6 separate regions of the Homo sapiens genome follow, and all the other regions are reported to be linked to region 5. The links are microRNA targets in miRTarBase. Many come from high-throughput screens and were not tested one by one. Region 5 holds a microRNA gene; each other region holds the end of a gene's coding sequence.

What was found. The annotated mature microRNA hsa-miR-6747-3p reads UCCUGCCUUCCUCUGCACCAG and lies in region 5 at 2,596-2,616, opposite strand. An mRNA with a match to its seed (bases 2 to 7 or 8) in the 3' UTR can be bound and repressed. Matches are read on the target gene's strand: a 7mer-m8 pairs with bases 2 to 8, a 7mer-A1 pairs with bases 2 to 7 and ends in A, and an 8mer does both.
Region 1: miRTarBase lists IVD as a target of hsa-miR-6747-3p. Seed matches in the 3' UTR shown: 8mer at 2,052-2,059, 7mer-m8 at 2,292-2,298, 8mer at 2,427-2,434, 7mer-m8 at 2,593-2,599 and 8mer at 3,020-3,027.
Region 2: the mRNA of TMEM154 is a reported target of hsa-miR-6747-3p. The part of its 3' UTR that is shown has no 7-base or 8-base seed match.
Region 3: the mRNA of GATAD1 is a reported target of hsa-miR-6747-3p. Seed matches in the 3' UTR shown: 7mer-m8 at 3,019-3,025, 8mer at 2,861-2,868, 8mer at 2,556-2,563, 8mer at 1,883-1,890, 7mer-m8 at 932-938 and 8mer at 794-801.
Region 4: the mRNA of PTCHD3 is a reported target of hsa-miR-6747-3p. Seed matches in the 3' UTR shown: 8mer at 2,421-2,428.
Region 6: the mRNA of RBM43 is a reported target of hsa-miR-6747-3p. Seed matches in the 3' UTR shown: 8mer at 2,931-2,938.

The regions. Positions count from the first base shown.
Region 1 is chr15:40,416,987-40,422,233 of GRCh38, forward strand. IVD (isovaleryl-CoA dehydrogenase) reads left to right here. Exons shown (of 12, transcript NM_002225.5): 12 at 1,144-4,322. The coding sequence ends at 1,277. Among named protein-coding and RNA genes, the nearest start is that of IVD, 14 kb to the left of the region's middle.
Region 2 is chr4:152,624,189-152,629,435 of GRCh38, forward strand. TMEM154 (transmembrane protein 154) reads right to left here. Exons shown (of 7, transcript NM_152680.3): 7 at 1-4,373. The coding sequence ends at 4,358. Among named protein-coding and RNA genes, the nearest start is that of TMEM154, 53 kb to the right of the region's middle.
Region 3 is chr7:92,454,844-92,459,928 of GRCh38, reverse strand. GATAD1 (GATA zinc finger domain containing 1) reads right to left here. Exons shown (of 5, transcript NM_021167.5): 5 at 1-3,557. The coding sequence ends at 3,367. Among named protein-coding and RNA genes, the nearest start is that of GATAD1, 9.9 kb to the right of the region's middle.
Region 4 is chr10:27,395,061-27,399,060 of GRCh38, forward strand. It overlaps PTCHD3 (patched domain containing 3 (gene/pseudogene)), which reads right to left. Exons shown (of 4, transcript NM_001034842.5): 4 at 2,061-4,000. The coding sequence ends at 3,234. Among named protein-coding and RNA genes, the nearest start is that of PTCHD3, 17 kb to the right of the region's middle.
Region 5 is chr11:62,564,416-62,569,662 of GRCh38, forward strand. MIR6747 (microRNA 6747) reads right to left here and starts at 2,656; the gene lies at 2,596-2,656. EEF1G (eukaryotic translation elongation factor 1 gamma) reads right to left here. Exons shown (of 10, transcript NM_001404.5): 6 at 2,984-3,113; 7 at 2,391-2,595.
Region 6 is chr2:151,246,556-151,251,802 of GRCh38, forward strand. RBM43 (RNA binding motif protein 43) reads right to left here. Exons shown (of 4, transcript NM_198557.3): 4 at 1,385-5,109. The coding sequence ends at 4,351. Among named protein-coding and RNA genes, the nearest start is that of RBM43, 13 kb to the right of the region's middle.

The sequences.
Region 1 (5,247 bases), not on the chromosome of region 5:
ATCAGGAGTTTGAGACCAGCCTGGCCAACATGGTGAAACCCTGTTTCTACTAAAAATACAAAAAAAAATTAGCCAAGTGTGGTGGCAGGAGCCTGTAATCCCAGCTATTTGGAAGGCTGAGGCTGGAGAATCTCTTGAACCCAGGAGGCGGAGGTTGCAGTGACCGGAGATCGCGCCATTGCACTCCAGCCTGAGTGACAAGAGTGAAACTCCGTCTCGGAAAAAAAAAAAAAAAAAAAGGCCGGGCACGGTGGCTCACACCTGTAATCCCAGCACTTTGGGAGGCCGAGGCAGGTGGATCACCTGAGGTCAGGAGTTCGAGACCAGCCTGACCAACGTGGTGAAACCCCATCTCTACTAAAAATACAAAAATTAGCTGGGTGCAGTGGTGCGCGCCTGTAATCCCAGCTACTCAGGAGGCTGAGGCAGGAGAATCACTTGAACCTTGGATGCGGAGGTTGCAGAGAGCCAATATCATGCCACTGCACTCCAGCCTAGGCCACAGAGCATGACTCCAAAAAAAAAAAAAAAAAAGCTAAATGGAAATTTCTAGAAATAGTTCATAAGTTTCAAATCCACACCATCCTGAATAGCTTGAAGTGTTGTGCCATGCTGCTCTGTCATGTTTGGTACGTGAATCGTCCCTTTGTGCAGCCTATCTATGCTATGTGGGCTACCTGCCCGTTAGTAGTCACCTAGGGTATCCAATCAGCTGTCCTGATATCAGAGTGCCTGTGTTCAAGTAACTCTTATTTTGCTCAGTGGCCCCAGATTGCAAGAGTAGTGATGCTGGCATGTCATAATAGTTCTATTTTAGTATTTGTTATTATTGTTGATCTGTTACTATGCCTAGCTCATAAATTAAACTTTCTCATAAGTATGTATGTATAGGGAAAAAAACAACATATATATGGGGTTCGGTACTATCTACGGTTTCAGGCATCCACTGGGGTCTTGGAATGTATCCTCCAAGGATAAGGAAGGACTAGTGTATTCCCCACACCCCTCCCTCTTGCTACCTTTTGCTGCTTTTCTTTAATCACCCTCTCCTCCTGTGGCCTGTTTCTATATACTTGGCATTCTGTTTGCTTTCTTTGTTTTGTCAATCACTTCCTTTCTTCTCTGCCCAAACCCTGGTTGCAGGTGGCAATGGCTACATCAATGACTTTCCCATGGGCCGCTTTCTTCGAGATGCCAAGCTGTATGAGATAGGGGCTGGGACCAGCGAGGTGAGGCGGCTGGTCATCGGCAGAGCCTTCAATGCAGACTTTCACTAGTCCTGAGACCCTTCGCCCCCTTTTCCTGCACCTAGTGGCCTTTCTTGGGAAGTAGAGATGTGGCGGCTTTCCCACCCTGCCCACAGCAGGCCCTCCTGCCCAGCTGCTCTTGTCAGCCCTCTGGCCTCTGGATGAGGTTGAGTTCTCCACAACAGCTCCCAAGCATCATGGGCCTCGCAGCCGGGCCTGTGCCACGGCTAGTGTTGTGTGATTTAAAATGGACTCAGCAGGAAGCATATTGTCTGGGGATTGTTGGGACAGGTTTTGGTGACTCTGTGCCCTTGCTCTCTAACTTCTGAGCCCACCTCCCAGGGTAGGCACCTGGGGGCATGCAGGTGCCCACCTCCCAGGGTAGGCACCTGGGGGCATGCAGGTACCCACCTCTTTCTCTTGGGTGAGGCTCTGGCAAGGAGATCTCTCTGCTCAAGCACAGCAGAATCATGGCCCCTCTCCATGAATTGGAACTTGGTACAGGTTAAGTATCCCTAATCCTGAAATCTGAAACACTTGTGGTTCCAAGCATTTTGGATAAGGCAAATTCAACTTTCAGTCTCTTTTCTGGGGGAAAAAAATAATAAACCTAGCCTAGCCAGGCGTGGTGGCTCATGCTTGTAATCCCAGCACTTCAGGAGGCTGAGATGGGTGGATCACCTGAGGTCAGGAGTTCAAGACCAGCCTGGCCAACATGTGGAAACCTCGCCTCAACTAAAAATAGAAAAAAATTAGTTGGGCATGGTGGTGGGCACCTGTAATCCCAGCTACTTCAGGAGGCTGAGGCAGGAGAATTACTTGAACCCAGGAGGCGGACGTTGCAGTGAGCCGAGCTTGTGCCATTGCACTCCAGCCTGGGCGACAAGAGCAAAACTCTTCAAAAAACAAAACAAAACAAAAAAACCCTGGCCCTTGTTTCTTCCAGTTTCTAGAGGTATCAGCTCCTAGCAGCTTATGAACACATATGCTTGCTTGGCCAGGCAAGGTGGTGTGTGCCTGTAATCCCAGCACTTTGGGAGGCCAAGGCAGGTGGATCACTTGCAGTCAGGAGTTCAAGACCAGCCTGTCCAACGTGGTGAAACCCCATCTCTACTAAAAATACAAAAATTAGCCAGGGGTGGTGGTGCACGTCTGTAATCCCAGCTACTCAGGAGGCTGAGGCAGGAGAATCACTTGAACCCGGGAGGTGGAGGTTGCAATGAGCCAATATGACACCGCTGCAGTCCAGCCTGGGCCATAGAGTGAGACTCTGTCTCAAAAAAGGAAAGAAAAATAGGCTGGGCACAGTGACTCATGCCTGTAATCCCAACACTTTGGGAGGCCGAGGCAGGTGGATCACGAGGTCAGGAGTTCAAGACCAGCCTGGCCAAGATGGTAAAACCTCGTCTCTACTAAAAATACAAAAATTAGCCAGGTGTGGTGGCAGGCTCCTGTAATCCCAGCTACTCAGGAGGCTGAGGCAGAGAATTGCTTGAACCCGGGAGGCAGAGTTTGCAGTGAGCCAAGATCACACCACTGCACTCCAGCTTGGACGACAGAGCGAGACTCTGTCTCAAAAAATAATAGGCCAGGCATGGTGGCTCAACGTCTGTAATCCCAGCACTTTGGGAGGCCGAGGCGGGCAGATCACAAGGTCAGGAGTTCGAGACCAGCCTGACGACCAACATGGTGAAACCTCGTCTCTACTAAAAATACAAAAATTAGCCAGGCCTGGTGGCACGCGCCTGTAATCCCAGTTACACAGAAGACTGAGGCAGGAGAATCGCTTGAACGCAGGAGGCAGAGGTTGCAGGAGCTGAGATCGCGCCATTGCACTCCAGCCTGGGCAACAGAGTGAGACTCTGTCTCAAAAAATAATAATAAAATAAATGAACACACATGCTGCTGAGTCCGCAGGGGGGGCAGAGCAGAGGACAGCGTGCTTTTGTGTACTGTTGGAAGACTGGCTCCTCCTGTACAGCACCTCTGAGCCCTTGTGCACCGCCCTGCCACGGGCACCATCCAGTCCTGGCCGTGTGACCACCCACAGCTGACTGGGCAGCAGGCACAGGCCCTACCCGAGCAGGCCGGAGTTGGCTCGCATGACTCCAGCTGAGGCTGCCTGTGTACATTTCTCCAGATACCCTATGGCTAATTTTGTTATAACTGCACAGTGGCTGCTGCCATTTTGTATTAAATATATTGTGAAACAAACCTATCTGGGGAGAAGCAATCTACTTGCCGCTGCTTCCTGTCTGGATCCAGCTTGTGTCCTTGGAGAGTGGCTGGCCCAGGTCCTATTCCTGTCCTCCAGCCCGTTCTTTCATGAGGGACAGGAAGGTAAAATCAGCCCTTAGGAGAGAGGTCTCAGCCTCCCTTTCCCAGATCTCCCAGTGAGTTTTAAAGGAAGCAGGGAGCCCAGAGTGCTAAGTTCTTACAGCCAGAAGGAAGCTTATAGATTTCTGAAAACCGCCCCTTTGTTTTTAAAAAGATCAACACAATTTGACTTTCTCAAGGTCAAAACGAACTAGAATCCAGATCTGCTCATGGCAAAAATGGGGGTGTTCTGAGAATTCCAGCTTTGGGCCGCACTGTACAGCAGTCTGGATAGAGTGTGATCTGAGAAGGGAATGGGTCTGGGTTGTTCCACCCCTTCCGAGTTCCAAAAAGAGGGAACTGGTTTTCTTGGTTCTCAGCCCAGCAGCACCTATCCTGGCTCTTGGTCCTGGCCTGCAGCCAAGTGCTGTTCCTAGCCTGAGGCTTGAGACAGGTGGGGTTGGCTCCTCACCAACCCCAGTTCCGTCCCATCCTGAGGGCAAGATCCTGGGCTCATAGGCAGTCCCTTTCACTTCCTTGTCTTGCTCCCTGCTATGTTGGAGATGAATGTGACTAAAAGGGCCATCTTGCTGGCTTAATGTGTGGCTGGAGAGACCAGCCTGGAGACAATGTGGCAAAATGGGGCGCTTCATCCAGTCTGTCTAAGCCCTGTCGACTTGGGGAGGTGATTTCTTTCCTGGTTCTATATGTGAAGCAAAATAAATGTTTTAAAATTAAAAGCAAAAAAAACAAAATGAACCATGCAGCCTGAGTGGTAAATGGAAGAACAAGGGGCACGTCTACTTTGGTTCTTGTGGGCGTGTTTGGTTGCCTACATGCATTGGGCAAATCTGCAGCACCAGCTGCCAGCACTGCTCCTTCCTGCGGCTGGCTCTTACTCCACTCCAATTTTAGGCAGGTCACACTATCAGGGCAGCTCGCTGCTGTTGATGCTGCCTGCCCTGTGGGAGGGCAACAGAACCTTGGGATGTTTTTTAAGCGTGGTCTGAGCACACCCCTTATCAAAATTTGGCAACCTAGAATAAATGCAGGTTCCTGGATCCTGCCCCAGACCTAATCACATCCCCAAGGGTGAGTCTGCAAGGCAATCTTCTACAACCACCATCTGAGTCCTAAAGCAGGCTTCCCCAGGAGCCTAAGTCCTAATTCTAAATCCATATAATCTAGTGATAACAATCCCTTGCCCATGTAACCCTCTCAAGTCTGAGATCCTTGATCTTTGCACAACCGAGTGCAGGAGGCAAGGTTTCGCGCAGGGCCCCCTTTCAGAAGACCGGTAAGGTGAGTTGCCCTCGGTGGAATGGGACTAGACCTGGTGTCAACACACCGCGCGGTCTGGAGAGAGGTTCCCAGTCCCTGCCTGCCGGGTGGGAGCTGGGACCTAAGACCCAGGTGGCCATCTGTCGCGACCCCCAGCCTAGGGCAGGTCCAGAGTCCTTCCTCTGACCCTCTCCCTCGAGGCAGCGCGCTTCTTCGAGCGCAGCACTGGCTTGCCAGACGCAGCTCGAGTGTCGCATGGAGCTCGCCTGACCCCTGCCGGCTGCCCGCGGGGTTGGGTTGCAAACGCGCGGAGCCAGCCTATATGGCCTTTGCCTGGGGTTCAAGGCCCCCAGTTTGGGATTTCAGGACTCAACGACGTTTTGTTTTAGCCAATAAGGACATG
Region 2 (5,247 bases), not on the chromosome of region 5:
TGTACAGAGTTCATATAAAGCTCTATTTTACATAATTGTATATACTGCTATCTCAGGAACATGATATGTTATTTAGAAAAGATAGTAGGGCAAAAAAACAAAACACAAGGTCCAGGTACAAATAATTCCAGCCAGTTATGGTGGCTCACACCTGTAATCCCAGGACTTTTGGAGGCTGTGGTGGGAGGATTGCTTGAACCTAGAAGTTCAAAACCAGCCTGAGCAACACGGTGAAACCCTATCTGTACAAAAGATACAAAAAATTAGCCAGTCCTAGTAGTGCACACCAGTAGTCCCAGCTACTTGGGAGGCTGAGGTAATAGAATCACCTGAGCCTGGGAAGTTGAGGCTGCAGTGAGCCATAATCACACCATTGCACTCCAGCCTGGGCATCAGCATGAGACCCCGTCTCAAAAAAAGAAAAATAAAAAAAAACACCCAAAAACTATCCCCAAGAGGACTAAGAAGGAAATAAAACTTTGGTGCCAGACAAGACAGTATCAAGATAAAGCCAAAGAGTTGCTAAAAACAAAAAATAATAATAATTCAGGCAATTGGTTGTCTGGGTTCTGCAATTTGAAATATTCCACTAGACACTAATATACAGGAACTCTTTTGGTCATTGTCACATAGCAGAAATGCTGCTATATGTGAAGTTGTTCTGGACTGCCTGTTATAGCTATTAAATGGAAACCCCAGAATTCATCCTGAATGTCTCTGAATGTGAAAAGTCACATGCGTTAATTTAATTCAGTATAAAATTTCCATGTTCTCCCACAAGGAGGATTTCAGCAGTGTCTTCCCAGCATGAAACCATGTCTTATCACTCCACCAGATTCAGAATTGGTACTAATTCTGACAGAAGCTGAAACTAAAGCCTATGTTTTCTTTAGTCAACATAAGGCCTTTTTTCAGAGATGGTGTGAATTAATAGTTTAAACCACCAAAATAAAAGAATAGACAAGTATTTTCTTAACATATCCATTTCCATTGCTAGAGCTGCGGTGATCAGCAGAAGCATCTGCCTGGCTGTCAATATCAAGGTGGATCCAGGCTGTTGGAACTGGTGGATCCAGGGGTTGGAACGGAGGAATACTAAAAATGAGACTTGGAACTTGGAAGGCCTACACCACGAGGGCCAATTCTGCCATAAGCCCTATTGCCCAGATATGTTACATAAAACATCCAGATATTACAGTGAAAGTCAGTGTGTGGCCAGACACAGTGGCTCACAATTGTAATCCAGCACTTTGGGAGGCCGAGGCTGGTGGATCACTTGAGGTCAGGAGTTTGAGACCAGCCTGACCAACATGGTGAAAACCCCATCTCTACTAAAAATACAAAAATTAGCTGGGCATAGTGACACAGGCCTGTAATCTCAGTTGCTTGGGAGGCTGAGGCAAGAGAATTGCTTGAACCTGGGAGGCGGAGGTTGCAGTGAGCCGAGATCGTGACACTGCACTCTAACCTGGGTGACAGAGTGAGACTCCATCTCAAAAAAAAAAAAAAAAAGTCAGGTGAGAAGAAGTAGCACATAGTGAAAATGAATATAATAATTTTACAGCTGGTCGGGCTCAGTGGCTCATGCCTGTAATCCCAGCACTTTGGGAGGCTGAGACAGGAGGACTGCTTGAGCCCAGGAGTTTGAAACCAGCCTGGGCAACATAGTGAGACCCTGTCTTTAAAAAATAAAATAAAATAATTTTACAGCTTTTGGTTCTCCTGTATTATACAGCATAACTAGGAGAAAAAAAAACTATGAAATTATTTTCCCAAGACCAGTTTTACTCATCTTTATCACATTTGTTTGATGTGGGTTATCCAGGAGCCACCTACATCAAGGTGGATCCAGGCTGTGGTCTTGCATTGGGTAACAAAGCCCTTCCCAGAGGGAGGAGTCACACCATTGGGTCAAGAGTCATGAATGGGTATTTTTACATATTTATTAAAACAAGTTTCCTGAGAAGTTTGACTAGGCTATGTTGTTGTTAACCTAGTTTGCTTAAAATGTACGAAAATGCAATCAAACTTACATATCTTTTAAATATTCGAAAGTCAGATTTTGTTCTGATTGCCCTATCCAATTAGGGCAAATTAGTGAGGGTTTTTTTGGTTTTTGTTTTGTTTTTTTAACAATAGTCTGAAACATAAAATTAAGTTTGGGTTTAAAAACAATTCTTGAAACTGTCATAAACATATGATATCTATTGATTAAACAGTAATAAAAAGACACAAGGTACAAGAATTGAGGCTTGGCTGTTCTGGCTGTATACTAACTTCATATACCCTGACAGAATAAACTATCTTTTTAAAAAGTGCTTTGTACACTGCACAATTATAGCTTTACCAAATAAAAACTCAATGACATGTCGCTGAAATTTGCTTCTTCTAGAATTTGAAATTATTTAAAATACTGCATGAGAATATTTTTATCATATTATATAATATGACTTCATCAACATGAAGTTCCAGGACCCCAGATGCCTCTCTGAGAAGTTCATTATTTGATAGGGTTGGATCAAATGTAAAGGCCCAGGTGTTCAAAGATCTTAGATACCTAAAGAGAGAAAGGGGCAAATGGAGGCTCTTCTGAGAGTCAAAATGTTGATGAGAAACAAACTGAAAGTAGCACACATAGGCAGAAAAATAGACAAGTTATGATTCAGAAAACAATTGTATGCAATTTTGGCATAAATATCTGAGAGTCACTGTGGGCCATGAGTTGAAAAGGAACATGCAAGAGAGCAAGGAAAACACAAAGCCTCATTCAGATGTGCTGGTGAGAATATGACAGAAAATCTGTTGAAGTTGTGTACCATGAAGTCTGTCTTTTGTCAAAGTTCTATGCAGTCCCAGGATAGCGTGATAGCAGTGGTTAAACACAACCAGCTAGTTATAGCTTTCATTGTATGGAAAGACCTCTCTGGTCTGGAACTCTGCCTTTGAAATTATCCACGTAGTTCAGAAGGCAAATACTTGTTAAAGGGATCCCAAAAGGTAGGAGACAAGTAGTTTTTGTTATGCATTAGGGCAGACTTTCAAGCACAAGACACAAAATTGAGCAGCAAATGTTTGGGTAGTCCCATCTCCCTTCGGTTTATATGTGGGTAGTAAAATAAATAAAATTTTCCTTCTTTGTCTCTTTCTTGAAATAAAATATCAGGTATCCAAGGAGAGCTGAGGATTCTCAATTTGCTAGATTGCTTTAAAGGGGTCAGATTTAGAAAATTAAGGAATAAATGAAGAACAATTTTACTGGAGTAGGTGTGGTCAATAGGCCCTTTTCCATTTTGTGCCATTGCTTTTAGCACAAGGATGTCAAAAATATCACATAGAATGTCATCTCTGATGGACTGACAGAGACCTCCTGTTGTGCTGTGTTAGGACATGAGGCTTATCCCAGCTTGGCGGGAGAGAATGCTAAGCATGATGAGTGAGATCTGCCACAGGCACGGATATTTCCTGCTCCTCTTCTGTTTGTTTCAAACCACCTTCAGGATCTCTGAAACATAGAAGGCTGACAGATGACTCCCACCTGCACATACTTCCTACCTACATGTCACATCCAAGGGAGGTATGGTGAAACAAGTGTGAGCTTTGCAGAAATGCTGACAAGCAAGGGAATTTCAGCTGAGGAGAACATTAGTTCTTTCACTGAAGATTCCTAGTTTCTCTGAGAAGTTCTTAAGGGTGACCAGACCTGGCCATGCTAGGGTCTACAAGTTACCAAACGCCACCTCATCAGGACTGTGGACCCCTCTCACTGTGTCTTCTTGGCAGGCAGAGCTTACTGACCCCCTGGGATGGTGTATTCATTAAAATACTTGCTGTGTTTGGTGTCTTTTCCATGACATAACACTCCTCGAGAAAAGTTCCTGCTGAATGTAGTTTACCTGTCCCACGACTTGAATAATCAGAGGAAATTATCCAAAGCTGGTTACTGACCCAAAAGGAAACCATCGATAAAACAGCTTCCTGATTTAGGCCCTAAGGAATGAAGCAGAAAGGTGACGAACATTTATCATGACCAGAGTGAGTTCAGTGAGCTAGAAGTTGGCTGAGAGGAGGCAACACATGTTGATCAGAAGTGAGCACATCACCCGCCTCCTTCTCCACCCTCAGAGGCAGCGATGGATGGCAGCCAGGCCTTTTCCTAGTACTTCTCAATTGCACATTCTTCCAAGTGCAAGTGATGCCATCATTAGGAAGAGTGGGCGTTGGAAGAAACAGCAAAAGGTTCTTGTGTCTATGTTGATTTGAAATTAATTAAATTTGTATCCTCTTCATCCTCTGTTGGCAGCCTCAGCAGACTCCCTCAGGGGCTGCTTCTCTTGGAAAACATGAGCGCCATTCAGGTTTAGGATTCACTGTCACTGTAAAAAAAAAAAAAAAAAAAAAAAAAAACAAAAAAAACACACACACACACACAAAACAGTAATATATTTCTTTCTTTTTTTTTTTTTTTTGAGACGGAGTCTGGCTCCGTCGCCCAGGCTGGAGCGCAGTGGCACAATCTCGGCCCACTGCAAGCTCCACCTCCCAGGTTCAGGTCATTCTCCTGCCTCAGCCTCCTGAGTAGCTGGGACTACAGGCACCCACCACCAAGCCTGGCTAATTTTTTGTATTTTTTTTTTTTTTAGTAGAGGCGGGGTTTCACCATGTTAGCCAGGATGGTCTCGATCTCCTGACCTTGTGATCTGCCCACCTTGACCTCCCAAAGTGCTGGAATTACAGGTGTGAGCCACTGCACCCGGCCAACAGTAACATATCTCTAAGAAGCTAAAGAGAGCTGGTCACTCCATTATGGAGGTGACTGAAGAGATCACAAACCATCAGGAAGCCAATGGTGTCCAGCTTACAATTTCTGAAACGAAGGTCAGTCTAAATTTTATATCTGATCCCTGAGGAAGAAATCCATGAAAGCCAAAAAATAATCCCTAGCTCTTTCTCCTCATAGCCCTCCCCAGTGCTGATGCAGAGAGAACCAGATGGAGTTGGGGGTTCCCCGTTTAATAAATCTAATCCCATTCTCTACGAATACGTGCCAAATTGCCTTTTGCTGAAACAAATTTTCCACATGCCGTTTTCTCTCAAGAGTTTGTGGTCCTGGCATGTCTTCAATAGCCCGTTTTGTTCATACCTACAAAGGAGCTGAAGGGGCCTTCTCAGTGTCATTTAGAATTCAAACATCGGGCATCCTGGGGTGTGAGCAGACATAAATGATGTACATGGTATTTGAACATGACC
Region 3 (5,085 bases), not on the chromosome of region 5:
ACAATAGAATTTAAAAGTTTCAGCCAAAGTTAATATGAATTAATAACTAAAATATCAACAAGCATTTTAGTTAACAGTATCTAACTCAGACCCTACAATCAGCATCTCCCATAAGCAAGAACCGGGGTTAGGTTATGTGGAAGTTACAAAGATGAGTAAATAAAACACAGCATCCCTGTCATCCCAGGACCAAAGGGATAGGAGTGAGGATGATGGAAGTAGAAACTTAAATGTGATGACAATAGGATAGAGATTGATTCCAAAAAGGCATGGGAATCTGGAAAGTTCTCAAAGAAAGAATCCGAAGGTGTTAAGAAAGGCCTTTGGAAGGTAGAATTGGAGAGAACAGTATGAACAAGGACTCAGAGCCAGAAAAATTGGGCGGGCATACAGGGGAAAGATTTTAGTGGTAATGAGGAAACAAGGCTGGGAACACAGACCAGGGCCATATCAGGTCCGGCCTCAGCAGGAGAAATATAAGCAATGGGAACCATCACACTGGGTGAAATTCAATCTTTATTTTAAAAGATGGTACACAACCATCTGCCAATTTATAAACAGATGATCAATTTATAGATTTTTAAAAGTCTACATTTTAATAAATGTTTTACATTGTGTTCATTTTATTAGCCATTTTTTGATTTTCCTAAAATCTGTTACTTATTAATGATGAATCTACTCCAAAATCTTTTTTTTTTTTTTTTGGAGATGGAGTCATGCCGTCACCCAGACTGGAGTGCAGTGGCGCGATCTCGGCTCACTGCAGTCTCTGCCTCCTGAGTTCCAGCGATTCTCCTGCCTCAGCCTCCCGAGTAGACTAGCTGGGATTATAGGCGCACGCCACCACGCCCAGCTAATTTTTGTATTTTTAGTAGAGACGGGGTTTCATGTTGACCAGGCTGGTCTCGAACTCCTGACCTCAGGTGATCCGCCTGCCTCAGCCTTCCAAAGTGCTGGGATTACAGGCGTGAGCCACTGTGCCCGGCCTCTACTCCAAATTCTAAGTACGATACTGTTTTGGTTTTAAATACCATTTTTGGTTAAAGAGCCCCATTTAAATTGTTTAAATGAAATAAATACATCCAAAGTAAATGCACGGTGAAAAATACATTTTAATCCAAAAGTTTTGAATATTGGCACTTAGAAAGTTATTTACAATCAATTTTACTATACCCTTTGTGAATAAAGAGATAATTATGTACGTGTAGCTACCTATAGTTGTTTCTTTCCAACTCAAACACCATAACTATGTGGAAAAAGGGTAAGAGTTAAAGCTGCTGCAGCTCAAAATCATTACAATCAACTTAGATTCTGCAAATTTTCCCAGGGTTGAAAAATGCTGGTTAAATCAGGACAAAAGAGGAGGCAAGTGAGTACACCCCACTCCTCTCCCATTTTACGTGTTGCTCCCTTACTTAACCGGCAAAGACCTGCACCTGAATTCTAGACAATTTCATATACAACAGGCCTCTTATTATGGGTCCATAGCAGATGGTTTAGGGTAGATGTTTTAAAGATATCAATGCTAATGGCCTACCAATGACTTTCATGACCTCCCAATATTCGTTTTAATGGTAGTCAAGAGACTATCAAGCAGGAAGCCTGATCTCGACATGTTTCCTCTGCGGCTTTGGTGAAGCTGACTATCTGCAGTATAAAATCTTATGGTTTGATCGAAGTCTCATTTTTGACTAGAAACAGTAAAGAGCAGCTTTATTAAGATCAATGGAATGGTTCTGAATGCCTGTTTCTACAGAAGGATTAAATTAAAATTTTTTCTTTTTTTTCTTTTTTGAGACAGTCTTGCTCTATCACCCAGGCTGGAGTGCAGTGGCACGATCTCGGCTTACTGCAATCTCCACCTCCCGAGTTCAAGCAATTCTCCTGCCTCAGCCTCCCGAGTAGCTGGGATTACAGGCATGCACCATAACACCCAACTAATTTTTGTATATTTAGTAGAGACAGGGTTTCATCATGTTGGCCAGGCTGGTCCTGAACTCCTGACCTCAAGTGATCCATCCACTCAGGCCTCCCAAAGTGCCGGGATTACAGGCATGAGCCACCGCACGTGGCCTAGATGAAAGTTTTTAAAAGCCTGGGCTAATAAAATCATCCACCAATCATTTTTCTTATGGTTAAAGCAGCCAAAAAGCTGTCACAGCATTTTTGAGATGAGAACATAAGGCTTGTGTGGCTTTATGATAGATGCTGTTAGTCATTTTATTTGATTAAGCCCTTGGTCAGTCATCTATACCTTAATTAATATTTTGTTCTTATAGAAAAATACAATCCATTTTATGAGTTTCTAGAAATAAATAATGGAGAAAAATAGATACTACCTGTTCCTAATGGTCTCTCTGGAAATTACAGCTTTTGCCTAGGAAGATACACATATAGAATATAATTTAAGTTCAAAATATATTTCATTATATTCTATCCCTTTTAATTTTTTGTTTGTTTCTTTGAGACGGAGTCTTGCTCTGTCCACCCAGGCTGGAGTGCAGTGGCACGATCTCTGCTCACTGCAACCTCCGCCTCCTGGGTTCAACCAATTCTCCTGCCTCAGCCTCCCGAGTAGCTGGGACTACAGGTGTGCGCCACCACACCTGGCTAATTTTTGTATTTTTAGTAGAGACAGGGTTTCACCATGCTGGCCAGGCTGGTCTCGAACTCCCAACCTCAGGCGATCCATCTGCCTCAGCCTCCCAAAGTGCTGGGATTAAAGGCGTGAGCCACTGTGCCCAGCCTTTTTTTTTTTTTTTTTTTTCCGAGACAAGAGTCTCACTCTGTTGCCCAGGCTGGAGCACAGCGGTGCAATCTTGGCTCACTACAACCTCCACCTCCTGGGTTTAGGCGATTCTCCTGCCTCAGCCTCCCAAATAGCTGGGATTACAGGCACATGCCACCACACCTGGCTAATTTTTGTATTTTTAGTAGCGACGGGGTTTCGCCATGTTGGCCAGGCTGGTCTCGAACTCCTGACCTCAGGCGATCCACTTCCCGACCTCAGGTGATCCGCCTGCCTCGGCCTCTAAAAGTGCTGCAATTACAGGCATAAGCCACTGTGCCTGGCCCTATCCCTTTTAATTTTCTAAGTGACCAGTAATAAACAATGATTTGTTTATTACTAGGTAGCAGGAGAAAAACTTTTTAGTCACTTTTCCAGCTAAGAATTTCATTTAAAGATACCTATGACATATCTTGTGGTACTAAGAATATTAGAGAACTGGAAATCCAGTTTTTTTGTGGTTTTTTAAGAAAGAGAATCTGACTCCATTGCCCAGCTTGGAGAGCAGTGGTGCAATAGCTGGGGCTACAGGCGTGAGCCACCACACCAGGCCTGGAAACCCAGTTTTAATTTGTGAACTACAAATGGTTGGCAACTGATTCCTTAATTGTTATTGCAGGAGTAGGCCCAACATGAGTCCATATGTAGCCCTTCTCTGGTCTGGTGGGAACTGTGGGAAATGGTGATGACCGTGACTTGAAATACTCAGAAGGTGCATGACAAACAAATTCCAAGTATTCCATCTTCCTTGGAAGATCTTCCTCTGGCCCTGGAAGGCAGCCAAGGGAAAGGTTAAATACATTTTTGACCATATATATCATTTTCATAAGATGTTAAAATTTCTAGACACTGGGAGAGACCACTCTGGGAGCAACCTGGCATTAGCCCTTGAAACATGCATTACTTTGAAATTATTCTTAATCATTTTTTCTTCTTTAACGGCTTAAAGAATATGGCATTCTCCCAAAAACAGTGATTGAACACTTGCATCATGTTTATTTTGTACCCACACTGCTCTAAGTTTACATGTATCAATACCTTCATTCCTCACATCAACCTTCTGAGGTAGGCACTATTATTATTCCCATTTTACATATGAGGAAAGTGAGGCAAGAGAGACTAAGAAACTTGCCAAAGTCACATGGCCGGTAAATGGCAGGCTGTGAACCTAGACAGTCTGGCTCCAGAACTGGTGTTCTGACCTCATGCCATGCTGCCTCGCTGTAGGACAAGGATGCATATCAGAATCTGGGGATTAGAAAGAGGAGGCAGTAGAGGAATCCCGAAGGTGATTCTGATACATCACTGCCTCTGCTGAGATCCTGATCCATAGATAAGGTAAATAAAAATTCTATATACTTATAAGCAGAAGGCTAGAATTGTTTGGTAATGTATCAAACTTGACATATAGGTGAGAATAACAGTGGTATATTATTTGTCCCTGGAGTTCTCTCCAAAAACACACTTATGCTTGTTCTCAGGATGCAAAAGTAATGATGCATGCTCACTGCAGAAAGATAAAAAGTCTGAAGTAACTGTAAAAATCTGAAAACTTTAAAAATTGTATTAATCAGTAAATTCTTGTGAGTCTATCTCACAACTGTTTTGGCAGCTTTGAAATTAACAAAAGCACAGCAGCTGCCATTTCAACTATCAGCCTTTATACTATAAAGGCCTAAGATGACATGTGTAGCATGCAGAGGCACACATATTGAGAATTTGCAAGTATGGGATAACTGGGATAGTTCTTTCCTAAATTATTTTTGAATAGGTTTGTATAAATAAGTAACCTAAATAACCTAGTTCCTGAGCAATACATTCTTGTAGTACAGTTTAACCCTGGGTCACTCCAAAAAAATCTTATCCATACCACTTCTTAGTAGATGCACATTGCTCTAACTCAAAATAACTGATAGCACTCACACTCCAGCTACATAAAATGCCTCATATTTTCTATAAAGCTCTCTAATTTTTTTGTACTTAATAATACTCATGCTTTTTTTGTTATGGACTGAATTGCATCCCCCCCCGCCACCCTCCAAATTTATATGTTGAAGCCCTAATCCCCAATGTGATGGTACTTGGAGATGAGACCTTTAGGGAGGCAATTAAGGTTAAATGAAACCATAAGGGTGGGGCCCTCATCTGACAGAAATGGTGTCCTTATAAGAAGATACACCAAAGAGCTCTCACTCCATGAAAGGCCATGTGAGGACACAGCAAGAAGGTGACCATCTATATGCCAGGAAGAAAAGCCTCCCCAGAAATCCGTGTTGCCAGCACCTTGATGTTGGACT
Region 4 (4,000 bases), not on the chromosome of region 5:
CCTGATGCTTGTGGGCTGTTTATTTGGCTTACAATGTTTTAAGGAAATTCTTGCTCCCTTTTCACCATGAGTGAGTTCTGGGGAAGGTGAAACAAGGATAAGTGCTTTGTGTCAGTCTTCCGATAGCTCGTAGACATGTTTAAACAGAAAAACTCTTTGTGAATGAGGTCTTTTCTCCCTCTGGAAGTAGGAACCTGGGTCCCACACGTGGTAGGAATGAAAAAAGGTAGGTAGGCTACCTTTTTTTTTTTTTTTTTTTTTTTTGAGACCGAGTCTTGCTCTGTCACCCAGGCTGGAGTGCAGTAGCGCGATCTCAGCTCTCTGCAACCTCTGCCTCCCGGGTCTCAAGCAATTCTCCTGCTTCAGCCTCCGAGTAGCTGCAATTACAGGTGCGCGTGCCACCACACCTGGCTAATTTTTGTATTTTTAGTAGAGATGGGGTTTCACCATGTTGGCAAGCTGGTCTCGAACTCCTGACCTCAGGTGATCCACCCCCCTCTTCGACCTCCCAAAGTGTTGGGATTACAGGCCTGAGCCACCCTGCCTGGCCTAGGCTACCTTCTTAGGACCACCATCACTATCAAGCCAGGGAGGGGGGTGTGAGACAAGGGCAAATAAAAACGCCACAAAATTTTCCTACCATTTTTAAGTTGCTTTTTTTCTGATTTGGTGTCCACTTGGTTGGTGTAAACCTTGGACCGTTTTCAGAGTTCAATTAGAGTCTTTTCTAACAGTTGTTGCATTTTTCAATTTTTTTATTTTTGTGATGAAATGGGCTCTTGGAGCTACATTCTACCCCGTTTATGCTGACATCACCCCAAATATTTTTGGTGAGGAAAAGAAACTAATTTGGAATTGACGTCTAGGAGAGATAACTAAGGAGCTGGAGCCACTGATTGCAAAACAGCAAAAACATGGCTAAAGCCTTTAGGCAAGGTCACATTTAAATAGCCAGCGTTTCTAATCATTAATACAACTTCTACACTGTTGCTGTTTTTCACTTTTCCCAACCCATTGGTTGGTGTGATGAGTTAAATTCAAGGCCCAAAACCAACAAGTTCCAGGGTAAAAGTGAATTGCTTTGTTACAGTATAGTTTTATGATGATGAATACCTTCTTTAAAAAAAGCAATGTTGGTTTATAGAGTTTAAGATAAAAAAGTAACCAAGTGTTGGTATGGTGGCTCACACCTGTAATCCCAGCAGTTTTGGAGGCTGAGGCGGAAGAATTGCTTGAGGCCAAGAGTTCAAGACCAGCCTGGCCAATGCAGAAAGACCCTGTCTCTTAAAAAAAAATTAAAACAAAAAATTAGTCAGATGTAATGGCATGACTGTAGTCCCAGCTACTCAGAGGCTGAGGCAGGAGGATCACATGAGCCCAGGAGTTTTAGGTGCAGTGAGCTATGATCGCACCACTGCACTCCAGCCTTAGTGACAGGGTGAGACTCTGTCTCAAAAAAAAAAAAAAAAAAAAAAAGAACGTAACAAAGATAAACTTTGAAATCAGAAAGATTAATAAAAATAAAAGTGGACAACATACACAGCCTAATTTCAGTAATTAATAAAAAGCTTCAGTAATGAAGGCTGTGTGGTGGTATTGGCCTTAGAGCAGACAAACAGATCGATGGCACAGAATTAGAACCACACATATATTGTCAACTGATTTTTTTTTTATATAGATGCCAAGTTAATCCTATCCTGAATGACAGTCTTTTCACAAATGATGCTGAGACAAATGGGCAGCTTTTATGAAAAGGGAATGGACCTCTATCGATACTGCCCAACAAATACATGCGTATGGATCACAGGCCTAAATGTAAGATCAAAACTATTAGCTTAGAGGAGAAAACAGAGATGACTTTAATTGTAACCTTGGAGTAGTCAAAATATTTCTTAGGATAAGAAGGCACTAACCATGAAAAAAATATGATAAATTGGATTTATAAACTTTAAAAACTTCTTATCGAAATATACCATTAACAAAATGCATAGAAAAGCCCCTGAATGGGAAAATAAATGATAAGATGCATTTTCACATATGAATGCATGTAGCAAGTGCAATGAAAATAATATTCCATTTATAGTATGAACAATACATACAATAGTTGAATTTCAGGCATAAATATAAAGGGAAAAAATAACAGAAAAGTTGTACCTTGTACTTGATTGTAAAGACTGTAAGAAAGATAACACTTCCTAATTTAGTGAAGATATTTTAACATAAGACTAATTAATTTTTATCAGTATATTTTAAATAATAATTTAAAATGGGATTTCCAAGTCAAGGAAACATGCCCTTGTTTTTGGTTTGTTGACTTTTTTTTTTTTTTCTGAGACGGAGTCTCATTCTTGTCACCCAGGCTGGAGTGCCTGGTGCACTCCAGCTCACTGCAACCTCCATCTCCCAGGTTCAAGCGATTCTCCTGCCTCAGCCTCCCAGGTAGCTGGGATTATAGGTGCACGCCACCATGCCTGGATAATTTTTGTATTTTCAGTAGTGTCGAGGTTTCACCATGTTGGCCAGGCTGGTCTCGAATTCTTGACCTCAGGTGATCCACCCACCTTGGCCTCCCAGTAGTTTGTTGACTATTCTTAATAGTGCATTTAAAAAAATCAGATTGGAATAGGGCAATCAGGAATTCTAGAATTGGTCTTTGACTTGTTAGTGGATATTCAAATAAACCTTCCAAAAAAGGTTAAGAATACTGGAATAAAAATTAGGCCATGAGCTGCCCCAAATATCATAACAAGAAACATAATCTTAAAAAATGTTCTGAAGATGTATGCTTTCGCTGCAGCTAAAACACACACCCCTATTATTGTTGAAATTGCACTTTGTAACACTGGGTAGCCTAGAAGATACAATGCCTCAACTGATTTTTGGTTTACTGAGGGTTGAGAACTAGAAACAAATGCATAGGAAATGTGTACAGAAAAATCGAAAGAAAACCCTATACAAATGACAAGATTAATCATGGATATGGAATCAAGATTGACTTTCCAGAATGCCATGAAACCCGTTACCCCTACAATCACAGAACCAATAGCAAAAGTCACCCACAAGGAACACAATGGATAAGGGATTAACAATAAGGAAACAATGAACATAGCTGCTGATGCAACCAATACATTTCTAACAGTGTCTTCTAATATTGCAGCATACTGATCAAAATATATAAATGCCTGGTTATACACCATTAGGGGAATTTGACAGTCTTCAGCTATGCGTCGTAATTAGAATAACAATATTTTCTTTTTGGCTGAGGAAGAAACATCTGTTGTCTGAATGAAGCCCCGGGAAGAAATGATTTCATTTGATGAAGAAATATTAATATCATGCTGAAAATTTGGAAAATTGCTTAAAAAATCAGGAATATTGTTCATAAAAGTATTCTTCTCATTAGGATCTTGGCTGTTACCTTTTAAATATTGCACATATGCATCTAACCAAAACTCTGTAAGATTTTTATCTACATAGACATTTTTTTCAAAAATTTTAGTACAGTTTTCCAGTTTTTGCCTAACATCTTTATCCCAGTAGTCAACTTTTTTAGTAACAATAACCATAACCCTGGGACCATAATCTGAAAAATAATTCTCCTCTACGTTAAAATATGGTGTGATGTAGGAATCGTCACTTGCCAGATTTCGAAGGTCTAAACCTTCCTGCACATGGAAACACCCATATATACTGCTTATGATGTACAAAACATATATAAAGACTACAAAATACTTGGACTCACTCCTTGTGAGAAAGGGGCCAAAATAGTCTCTAAAAAACAAACTTATTGGATGGATATCAGTTCCATGTTCATCTGGGACAGAACCAAATGGGAAACAGCAGAACTTTTTAAATGAGGGCCATTTTGGGTCAGCCTTTTTCAACCAGCATAGGCAGACTACTTCTCTTTTACCATCCAAGGCCATAAATGCTCCAAAACACGTGATGTTATAAAAATAGCAAAATAACAGGGTCATTCCTGTATAGATGCAAAAACATT
Region 5 (5,247 bases):
ATCACACCACTGCACTTCAACCTGGGCAACAGAGTGAGACTCTGTCTCACAAAAAAAAAAAAAAAGGCCGGGAGCAGTGGCTCATATCTGTAATCCCAGCACTTTGGGAGGCGGAGACGGGCGGATCACGAGGTCAGGAGTTCGAGACCAGCCTGCCCAGCATGGTGAAACCCTGTCTCTGCTAAAAATACAAAAAATTAGCTGGGCATGGTGGTGCGTGCCTGTAGTCCCAGCTACTCAAGAGGCTGAAGCAGAACTGCTTGAACCCGGCAGGTGGAGGTTGCAGTGAGCCAAGATTGCACCACTACATCCCAGCCTGGGCGACAGAGCCAGACTCCATCTCAAAAAAAAAAAAAAAAAAAAAAAAGGGGGCCAGGCACGGTAGCTCACACCTGTAATCCCACCACTTTGAGAGGCCAAGGTGGGCGGATCACGAGGTCAAGAGATTGAGACCATCCTAGCTAACACGGTGAAACTCCGTCTCTACTAAAAATACAAAAAATTTGCCAGCCGTGGTGTCACGCGCCTGTCATTGTAGTCCCAGCTACTCGGGAGGCTGAGGCAGGAGAATCGCTTGAACTGGGGAGGCGGAGGTTGCAGTGAGCTGAGATCACACCACTGCACTCCAGCCTGGGTGACAGAGTGAGACTCTGTCTCCAAACAAACAAACCAAAAAAAAACAAAAAACACAAAAAGGAGCCAGGTACAGTGGCTCACACCTGTAATTCCAGCACTTTGAGAGGCCAAGGATCACTTGAGCCCAGGAGTTTGTGACCAGCCTGGGCAACATAGTGAGACCTAGTCTCTACAAATAATAAAAAATTAGCTGGGTGTGGTGGTGTGTGCCTTTGTCCCAGCTACTCCAGAGGCTGAGGTGGGAGGATCGCTTGAGTACAGGAGGTCAAGACTGCAGTGAGCCGTGATCACGCTACTGCACTCCAGATTGGACAACAAAGTAAAACCCTGTTTCCAAAAAAAAAAACCTTGGGGAAAGCATTTCTGGCAGCCCTGTAGGGCATCATGGTAACCCAATAAATAGACATTAATAAACATTCCCAAAACCATGTTAAGAAAATGTAAAGTTTATTAAATAAAGATTTTAAGTTTACTACTGCCTCATTTATTTCCTGCCCAGAGTACTGACCTACTATATGTGAAAATCTCTAGCTAATAATTAACAACGTCTGAGTTACAACACAATATGTAATTTGGGTTAATTATCATGACCTATTTACACACACCAAAAATCCTGCTCACTCTTGACCTGCACCTGTGCTAAATTCAAGGCAAATCACTAGTTCAAAAAATACATCTTTAAAGAGTGCCTGTGTCTGGATGGAGCCTTCCTGGTCTTGTACAAAATACCCGGGAGTAAGAACTTTCAGCTATACCCCAAGTTGCTCCCATCTATTAGTGCAATGCTTGTAATTCACAATTCTATGCACAGCTACTGTGTCCCTACCAGTGGGTGCTCCTTTAGGCTGGTTCACCCGGTATCCAAGCCATTACAAGATGGGAGAGGGTGAAATGTAAACCCTAGCAGACCAAGCAGTAAAAAGATGAACGGCTTTGGAAATGACAGGGTGAGTGGGAGGAAAAAGTACAGAGAAAGAGGAGTTCCAAAGCAAAGTGACCACAGAATATATATTTCTCAAACTGCTTGAACTCCCAATAAAATGACTTGGAGCAGTGATGGAAGAAAGACTCCATCCCAGAGAACTGGGCAAGCACTCAGCGTCCTACATTTTTCATGCCAAAAATCTCGTTTTTACTATATTATTTCTTCCAAGAAGCCCTACCTTTAACTGAAAAAGGGATACAGAGGACACCTACTTTCTTCTACTTGGGGACTTTACTCGGTTGTGGAACAATGAACTAGACAGACACTACTTAGCTATGATCTTCATCCTTTTTCTTAGTGAGCAATTTTTGTACAGTCTGATTCAGCAAAACAGAAAACAAAACAATTCAAAGGACCCTGCTCTGGCATCCACTATCTCCGCACAGCCGGGCGCGTGGCGCACCGCAAGGCTCTCTGCACTTTCTTCCTCCCCACGCCTCTCCCTGTATTTGTTCTCAGAGCTCTCAAATGGTCAAATGAGCTTGCTCAAAACCAACTTACCACTATATCAAAATCTGTTCCTGTCTTTGTTGGAATAGGAGTTCAATCTTCCCCAGTACTGGCTGTACTTGAAACTTGCTCTCCACAATCAAAATTTGCCCAATTCCTGATTATCAGCCAGAAAGCTGCTTTATTTGCAACTAAAATATACCTTTAACTTTATATGGACAACCTAAAATTCTGGCTCTAGCTGTGTGTGAGGGGGGACATACAGAGGTGAGAACAGGCCTTCTTTGGTCCCACACCCTCCACCCTCCAATATCCTTACCTCTTGGGCAGGTGAGCGAAGGGGTCCTTGGCCTTGGGCTCAGCAGCCAGCGCCTGCTCACATTCATCCATCTCCTCCTCAGGAGCAGGGGCAGCCGCCTTTTTCTCCTCCTTCCGCTCAGCCTGGGGCTTCTGCTTCTCTTCCCGTGAACCCTTCTCTTTCCGTGGTGTGTCCTTTTTAGGTTGGGTCTCTGCAAACTTTTTAGCTGGTGCAGAGGAAGGCAGGAAAGTGAACGAATGTTCTGCCTCTTTCCACACCCCTCCAAAACCACACAGAGCAAGCAAGGTAACAGAGGAAACTGACGAATGGGACAAGTAAGGAACTTAGGCCCCAGACTGCTCATCAGTTCACTGTGTGTCCTCCAGCAACAACACACTCAGCAACAAATACTTTATATCGCAAATCTATATAGTAATACAAATTAGTCAGGGTATGAGTGTACACGAAACTGCACATAATATTAGCTACCACATTGACACCCTACATTCTGCAGGTCCCCATAACCCAAAAGCAAGACAGGAAATCAAGGGGTTGATGCAGAGCAAACCAGACCCTGATCCTGGCCATATGCCTCCCAGTCTCCTCAGACTCACCATCAAACTGGGCCATCTTCTCACACAGTTTCACTTCGCCCAAGACAGCCCGGAACTGGGGCTGGTTAATGCAGGTGAGGAACCAGCGGTTGGTATTGGGAAAGGCCTGGCGGAAAGAAGGCTCTAGAACCTGCCAGGACATAAGGGTGTAAACAAAGTCAGTGGAAAGGCCCTGAAGAGTTCTGTTCACAGCAAGAGTCCTTGCTCTACCTAAGTCCCAGTGCTCACCTTCTTTTCAAACCCTATAGACAATAGCTTCATACAACATCATCCTTCCCTGGATTACTTCCCATTTCTTCATTTTTTTCAATTTTTTTTTTTTTTGAGACAGAGTCTCACTCTATCGCTCAGGCTGGGGTGCAATGGCGTGATCTCAGCTCACTGCAGCCTCCATCTCCTGGGTTCAAGTGATTCTCGTGCCTCAGCCTCCCATGCCTTAGCCTTCTGAGTAGCTGGGACTACAGGTGCCTGCCACCACACCCAGCTAATTTTTGTACTTTTAGTAGAGATGGGGTTTCGCCCTGTTGGCCAGGCTGTTCTCGAACTCTGACCTCAAGTGATCCGCCCACCTCGGCCTCCCAAACTGCTGGGATCTCCGAGGCGGGCGGATCACGAGGTCAGGAGATCGAGACCATCCTGGCTAACACGGTGAACCCCCATCTCTCCTAAAAATAAAAAAATTAGCTGGGCGTGATGGCGGGCAGCTGTAGTCCCAGCTACTCGGGACGCTAAGGCAGGAGAATGGCGTGAACCCGGGAGGCGGAGCTTGCAGTGAGCGGAGATCGCGGCACTGCATTCCAGCCTGGGTGACAGAGTGACTCTGTCTCAAAAAAAAAAAAATTAGCTGGGCGTGGTGGCACGTGCCTGTAGTCCCAGCTACTCCAGAGGCTGAGGCAGGAGACTCACTTAAACCCAGGAGGTGGAGGTTGCAGTGAACCGAGATCACGCCACTGCACTCCAGCTTGGGTGACAGAGTGAGACTCTGTCTCAAAAAAAAAAAAAAAAAAAAAAAATTTTAATAGAGATGGGGTCTCACTATGTTGCCCAGGCTTATCTTGAACTCGCATGCTCAAGCAATCCTCCTGCCCTGGCCTCCTAAAGTGCTGGGATTACCCGTGAGCCACCACACCTGGCCTCCATTTCTTTTTCTAATCTTTTTTTTCAGTGTAGTCCAGTTTAATGGATGGATGCTTGGGTCCATCCTCCATTTAGGAGTAGGAGTAATAATTGTCTTGCTCCTTTACAAAACTATTTCAGATCTACTGTTTCCAATCTTTTAAATTTCAAACGTCGGCCAGGAGCGGTGGCTCACGCCTATAATCCCAGCACTTTGGGAGGCCGAGGCGGGCAGATAACCTGAGGTCAGGAGTTCGAGACCAGCCTGGCAAACATGGTGAAACCCCGCCTCTCCTAAAAATACAAAAATCAGCCAGGCATGGTTGCACATGCCCGTAATCCCAGCTACTCAGGAGGCTGAGGCAAGAGAATCACTTGAACCCGGGAGGCAGAAGTTGCAGTGAGCCGAGATCGCGCCATCGCACTCCAGCCTGGGGGACAAGAGCGAGACTTCGTCTCAAAAAAAAAAAAAGATTGAGACCCACAGAGGGCTATCGAGGACTTTTTTGCCAAATAAAATCTAAACACTATAGGTATTTACTATCTATATTGGCCATACTATACACACACGCACACACACACACACACCCCCCACACCCACCCATCCATCAAACTTCAGAAAGTAAAGAACATTCAAAGAAAATATTCAAACGCATTTAGAATAATGGACAGTCCTGGCTGGGTGTGGTGGCTCACCCCCGCAATCCCAGCACTTGGGAGGCCGAGGCGGGTGGATCACCTGAGGTCCTCAGGAGATCAAGACCAGTCTGACCAACATGGCAAAACCCCATCTCTGCTAAAAATACAAAATTAGACGGGTTTGGTGGCGCATGCCTGTAATCCCAGCTACTTGGGAGGCTGAGGCAGGAGAATCGCTTGAACCTGGGAGGTGGAGGTTGCAATGAGCCAAGATCGTGCCACTGCACTCCAGCCTGGGTGACAGAGCAAGACTCTGTCAAAATAAATACATAAATAAATAAATAATGGACAGTCCTTCAAATTAAACTTAGTGTCTGGTGTATTAAGCATGGTCAAAGAAAAATAAGAATAAACAGCTTCAGGTAGAACTGTTGTCAGTTTTCAGTTTGCAAAGCTTCAGGTAGAACTGTTGTCATTTTTTAGTTTGCAAAGACCAGAAGAGGAAAAAA
Region 6 (5,247 bases), not on the chromosome of region 5:
AGGTTTTTGGGGGTATGTGCTATGAAAAAGTATCCACCTGTAACTGTTGCACCTTGAGTTCTTGCTGTTTCAAAAAGTTCCAGGAAGATGGGAGGCCAAGGTGGGTGGATCACCTGAGGTCAGGAGTTCGAGACCTGCCTGGCCAGCATGGTGAAACCCCCCTCTACTAAAAGTACAACAATTAGCCAGGCATGGTGGTGCATGCCTGTAATCCCAGCTACTAGGGAGACTGAGGTAGGAGAATCGCTGGAACCCGGGAGGCAGAGGTTGCAGTGAGCCAAGATCGCGCCATTGTACTCCAGCCTGGGTGACAGAGTGAGACCCCGTCTCAAAAAAAAAAAAAAAAATGTATTAGCCTGGTGTGGTGGCAGGTGCCTGTAATCCCAGCTACTTGGGAGGCTGAGGCAGGAGAATTACTTGAACCCAAGAGGCAGAGGTTGCAGTGAGCTGGAACTGCACCATTGCACTCTAGCCTGGGCAATAAGAGCAAAACTCGGTCTCAAAAAATAAAAATAAAAAATAAAATTTTTAACAACCAATTATTTTATCTTAGGATAAAAATTTACCATATAATTTTTAATACATCAATTGTATTTTCCTAAATTTATATTTTGATTAATAGACCGAAATACTTTTAGTCCTTTTATAAAACCTAAGAAGCCAAGAACAAATGTCTATGTATTTAGCAATTTTTTTTTAATTTGGATATGATCCAGACATTTAATGAGTATCATTTAACATAATTTTAAGATTTTAAAATTACATGAAAAGCTCATTTATAAATGTTTATTTCATTTATAAGATTTATTTCTCAATTATTCCTAGATTTATGAAAATTGAGATAGAACTAGTCATTGTTTTTATTAATCAGTTTTATAGACTGTTACCATGAAGTATTTATCTTGATATTAAGGTTTAAGTAAGAACCTTAAAGTTAAAAACAGCCACCCTGTTGCTAACTCAGAAAAGTTACAGCTATTTTTATTAAAACAACAATATAATCATATTTATTTAAAAACTATATAAACAAAGATCATTTTGTTTTAGGCTTTATGACTTTAAAACATCTAGCAGAGGCAAATATAAAACTGTCTGACCAGTAAACCCAGACAAAAATGTCTGCTGACAATTTTGAAGACATTTCTAATTTTATTTTATCCACAATTTTAAAACCAATTAATTTATCAAAGATTTACTTAAGTCACATCAACTAAAAAAAACTGGGGGTTAATTACTATACATTTTATATGAGTGCTCATTTATTTAAACCAATCAGAATAAAATTTGTTAAGGGATTTCTGGCTGACTACACCAGCTTTTATGTAGATACAACATTCAACATAATATATGTACATACACATAAACACATTTAAACACATATACATAAAGATATTAAAACTTTTATTTTAGAATTTTAGTCATGATATAGTAAAACACGTAAATTCACCAGTTTATAAAAATGATTAGATGCAAATTATTTTTCTGACAAAATGGGCTAAGGATAAGCTTTAAGCTTTTTTAATAGGCAATCTTATAAAGGCTGTAAATCAAATTTGGGATAAAGCAGTTTGAGTCACTCACCAGTGCACTAAATTGAACAAAAAATAGTTAACTGTGAAAGTGTGCTGAATTATGTGAGTAGGACCAAAAGACAAGAGTGATTTTTAACAAGGTTTATACAGTATTTTCTTGGACTCAATTCTTTGTCATTGAAGATAAAAATGCTGCTATTCTTTTTTGTATAGGGAGGAAGGTTTTACATGGGAATTTAATCTTTGCTTTAAAAAAAAAACAGTAGGAAGGTCAAAATGACTTTGTTTTATATCTGCTGGTTTTCAAGTGTTTTTATTTAAGTAGTATGTTAGAATAGCTGTTTAGAGAAGGATAAAGAGGGGATACTGTAAGAAGGGGAGGGGAAAGGTCTAGAAAAGAAAGTTTCAGCCACCTTTGAGACAGTATTTTTTAACAAGGCAATATTTGTATCCTGAATGTGTTTTGTTTTTGTTTTTATTTTTTTTTAGCCTCAAGATATCAATGAAATATGCATATCTTATTTGGAGTGTATGATTTTATAGCCTCCATCTTTTAGTTCAGTTTTAAGAAAAACAGACTAAATGATCCCTGTAATGTTTGAATATGTTACTAGCTGGAGTTCCAGAAAATATTCTGGCATGCCTTTGAACTTTGAGAGCTCATTTCGTGGGTGCTCTGATTTAATGTCAACTATGCAAAAGCCAAGTAAATGCAAGCACTGAATACACAAAGGCCAAATAAATACAAGACAGGACAGAAAATAAAATACATGCTTACCAGTAAGAATGATAAGCCTTCTCCAAAGAAAGGGAAAAATTCCCTCATCCAAGCCTCAAGGTCCAAACCTCGCAGCTGAGGTCAACAGGGGGAAAATAATTCTACCCAACAGATCTACCAAACAAGAGGGGGAAAGACCTCTCCCTAATCATATCCCAAATAAAACAGAACTCGAACCATATCTGAGAGTTCTGTCCAAGAGATACTTACTGGAGGGAGAAAGGATTACCTGTGAAAGTGGTGGGGGTGTAGGGGGTTCAAAGGGCCCCAACATGGGTACCTCATGCCATAACTCCAAAGGCCAATGATTCTCCATGAGGTGAGTCAGCTTTGTATCCCACTTCTGACACCATGCATGTCAAAGTCAAAATGAAAATGTAGACACAAAACTAAATTTAATGTTTTGAGAAGAAAGAATTTCAATTCTAGGTGATCTTTAGTATGTCCAACAAACAAAGAGAAGGTTGAGGGTTTTATTTAAAACTAAGAATGTTACTTGTGGTCTTTCTTTTTTTTTTTTTTTTTTTTTTGAGACGGAGTCTCGCTCTGTCACCCAGGCTGGAGTGCAGTAGTGCAGTCTTGGCTCACTGCAAGCTCCACCTCCCGGGTTCACGCCATTCTCCTGCCTCAGCCTCTAGCCTCCCGAGTAGGTGGGACTACAGGCGCCCACCACCATGCCCGGCTAATTTTTGTATTTTTAGTAGAGATGGGGTTTTACCATGTTAGCCAGGATGGTCTCAATCTCCTGACCTTGTGATCCACCCGCCTCGGCCTCCCAAAGTGCTGGGATTACAGGTATGAGTCACCACGCCCGGCCAACTTGTGATCTTAAGAGAAAGTTCATTGGTATTAGTAAAGCCCTGGGGAGCTGGCAAGCTCCAACTGGTGGGCAATGGCCATAGGTAAAATTAGTCCTAGAGTTACAGCAAGTTATCTCAGCAGCTATAGACAAAACTGGTCTCAGGTTACAGCAAGCAGTTTCAGTAGCCAGGCTCACAGAGAATTACATTCTTGGAGCAATATTATGTGTCCCAAGTACTTTTTCCCCCTAGCTTCTTGAGTCTGTTTTAGTTGGATGTGACAAGAATGACTCAATTAATATTATCAACTTGCACAATTATAAAAGAATCACCATTTTATGTAAGCACTTAGGCTAAAAAAATAGTAAAAACATCCTATGTGGCCAGCAGCCTTGAAACAATAGAATTTAGTCAAATAATGATTACCTGCATAAGATATGCTTTCCATCTAAGTAGTTTCCCCAGTGATTTTTGCCAGTATTCTAATTCTACACGGAGTAAACACAAACTGTAAATGTTAAGAAATTGCCCATGGCATAATAATCACCTTTCAAATTTCTCATATGTTAAGGCTACTTCTTAATAATTATTATTCTCTAATAATTTGGAGTTACAGAGAAAGTAAGATTCCTTCAAAGTTTGGTGAGTTTGCTGGGCGCAGTGGCTCACGCCTGTAATCCCAGCACTTTGGGAGGCCGAGGCGGGTGGATCACAAGGTCAGGAGATGGAGACCATCCTGACTAACACGGTGAAACCCCATCTCTACTAAAAAAATACAAAAAGATTAGCCGGGCGTGGTGGTGGGCACCTGTAGTCCCAGCTACTCCAGAGGTTGAGGCAGGAGAATGGTGTGAACCCAGGAGGTGGACGTTGCAGTGAGCCGAGATCACGCCACTGCACTCCAGCCTGGACAACAGAGCGAGACTCCATCTCAAAAAAAAAAAAAAAAAAGTTTGGTGAGTTTTTTTCAAAGTTTTATTCCTTAGATATTATCTGTGTAATCAGATAGACTGGGCTAAGCCACAGCCTCATTCTTTGTCAACTGGATAACTTCAGAAAAGTGTTTTAACTTCTCCAAATCCTAGTTTCTTCCGCTGTAACATGAGGATAGTCAACACTGACAAAGAAGGATGACTATAAGGATTCATGAGATACGGTGTGTAAAGCTAGCCTCATTCATGGCAATGGTCACTGCTCAGCAAGAGAAAGCAGCCCTTATGACTATATTGCTGAGATTTTATTAACTAACCTTTTGCCCTATTAATTTCATGACCCCTTTTTTAAACAGGTAAGTGTCAGAAGAAGATCCTATAATGTCAATGTGTGTCCTATAAAGGTTAATCAGGACTTCAAGGTATCTCGAACTTAATTGTTCACATGCCCTTTTGATCATTCTTTTCTCTCTATTTTCCTTTCCTTCCAAAATAAATGTCTCTTTTCTAAGCTTTAAGTAAAGAGCATGTGACCATTCCTCAATGAGCTCTTTTACATGTTTTGCATTGTTTGGCTGAGAACCAACTTGAATGCTTTTTAGACAAATTGTGGTGATTTCACCATCCACTTTCTCCTGACTCAGAATGTGGAATTTTTTCAGTGTGCTTTCATAAGATCCACACTTGTGTTTCAGGTAAAGAAAAACATCTGTGTCAAGCACAAGCATTTCTCCACTTCTAGCAGTCTCAGGTACTAAGGTCCTGACTGATGCCAAAGAGTTATTACTTCTCTGTAGATTCCTCTGGGGATTTTGTCTATTCCACTTTCTCTCCTCACTGGTAAAATTTCTGTCTTTTTCTAAGAGAGAACATGCTCTTGCTAGCAAAGATTCTCTGAGCCTCTTGACAGCCAGAAATGATCCTTCCACGGAGATTCTTCCATTGGGTTTCAAAGGACTGAAGCTTAAACTCGGGATTTTTTTTTTCAGGTCTTTTACCAGAGTTTCTAGAGTAACTTCTTTTCCAAAAACAGAAAGATCAAGGATGGCATTTACAGAGCTGAAGATCTGAAATTAAAAAGAGAGAAATGAAAACAGTACTGCCTAGTGGGAAAGACTACATAAACATGTTCTTTTCTGCCACTTTCTTTTCTCTGCAGAAATTGCAATAAACCAGGCCCCAGTTGCCTGCCCCAGACTTCCTGA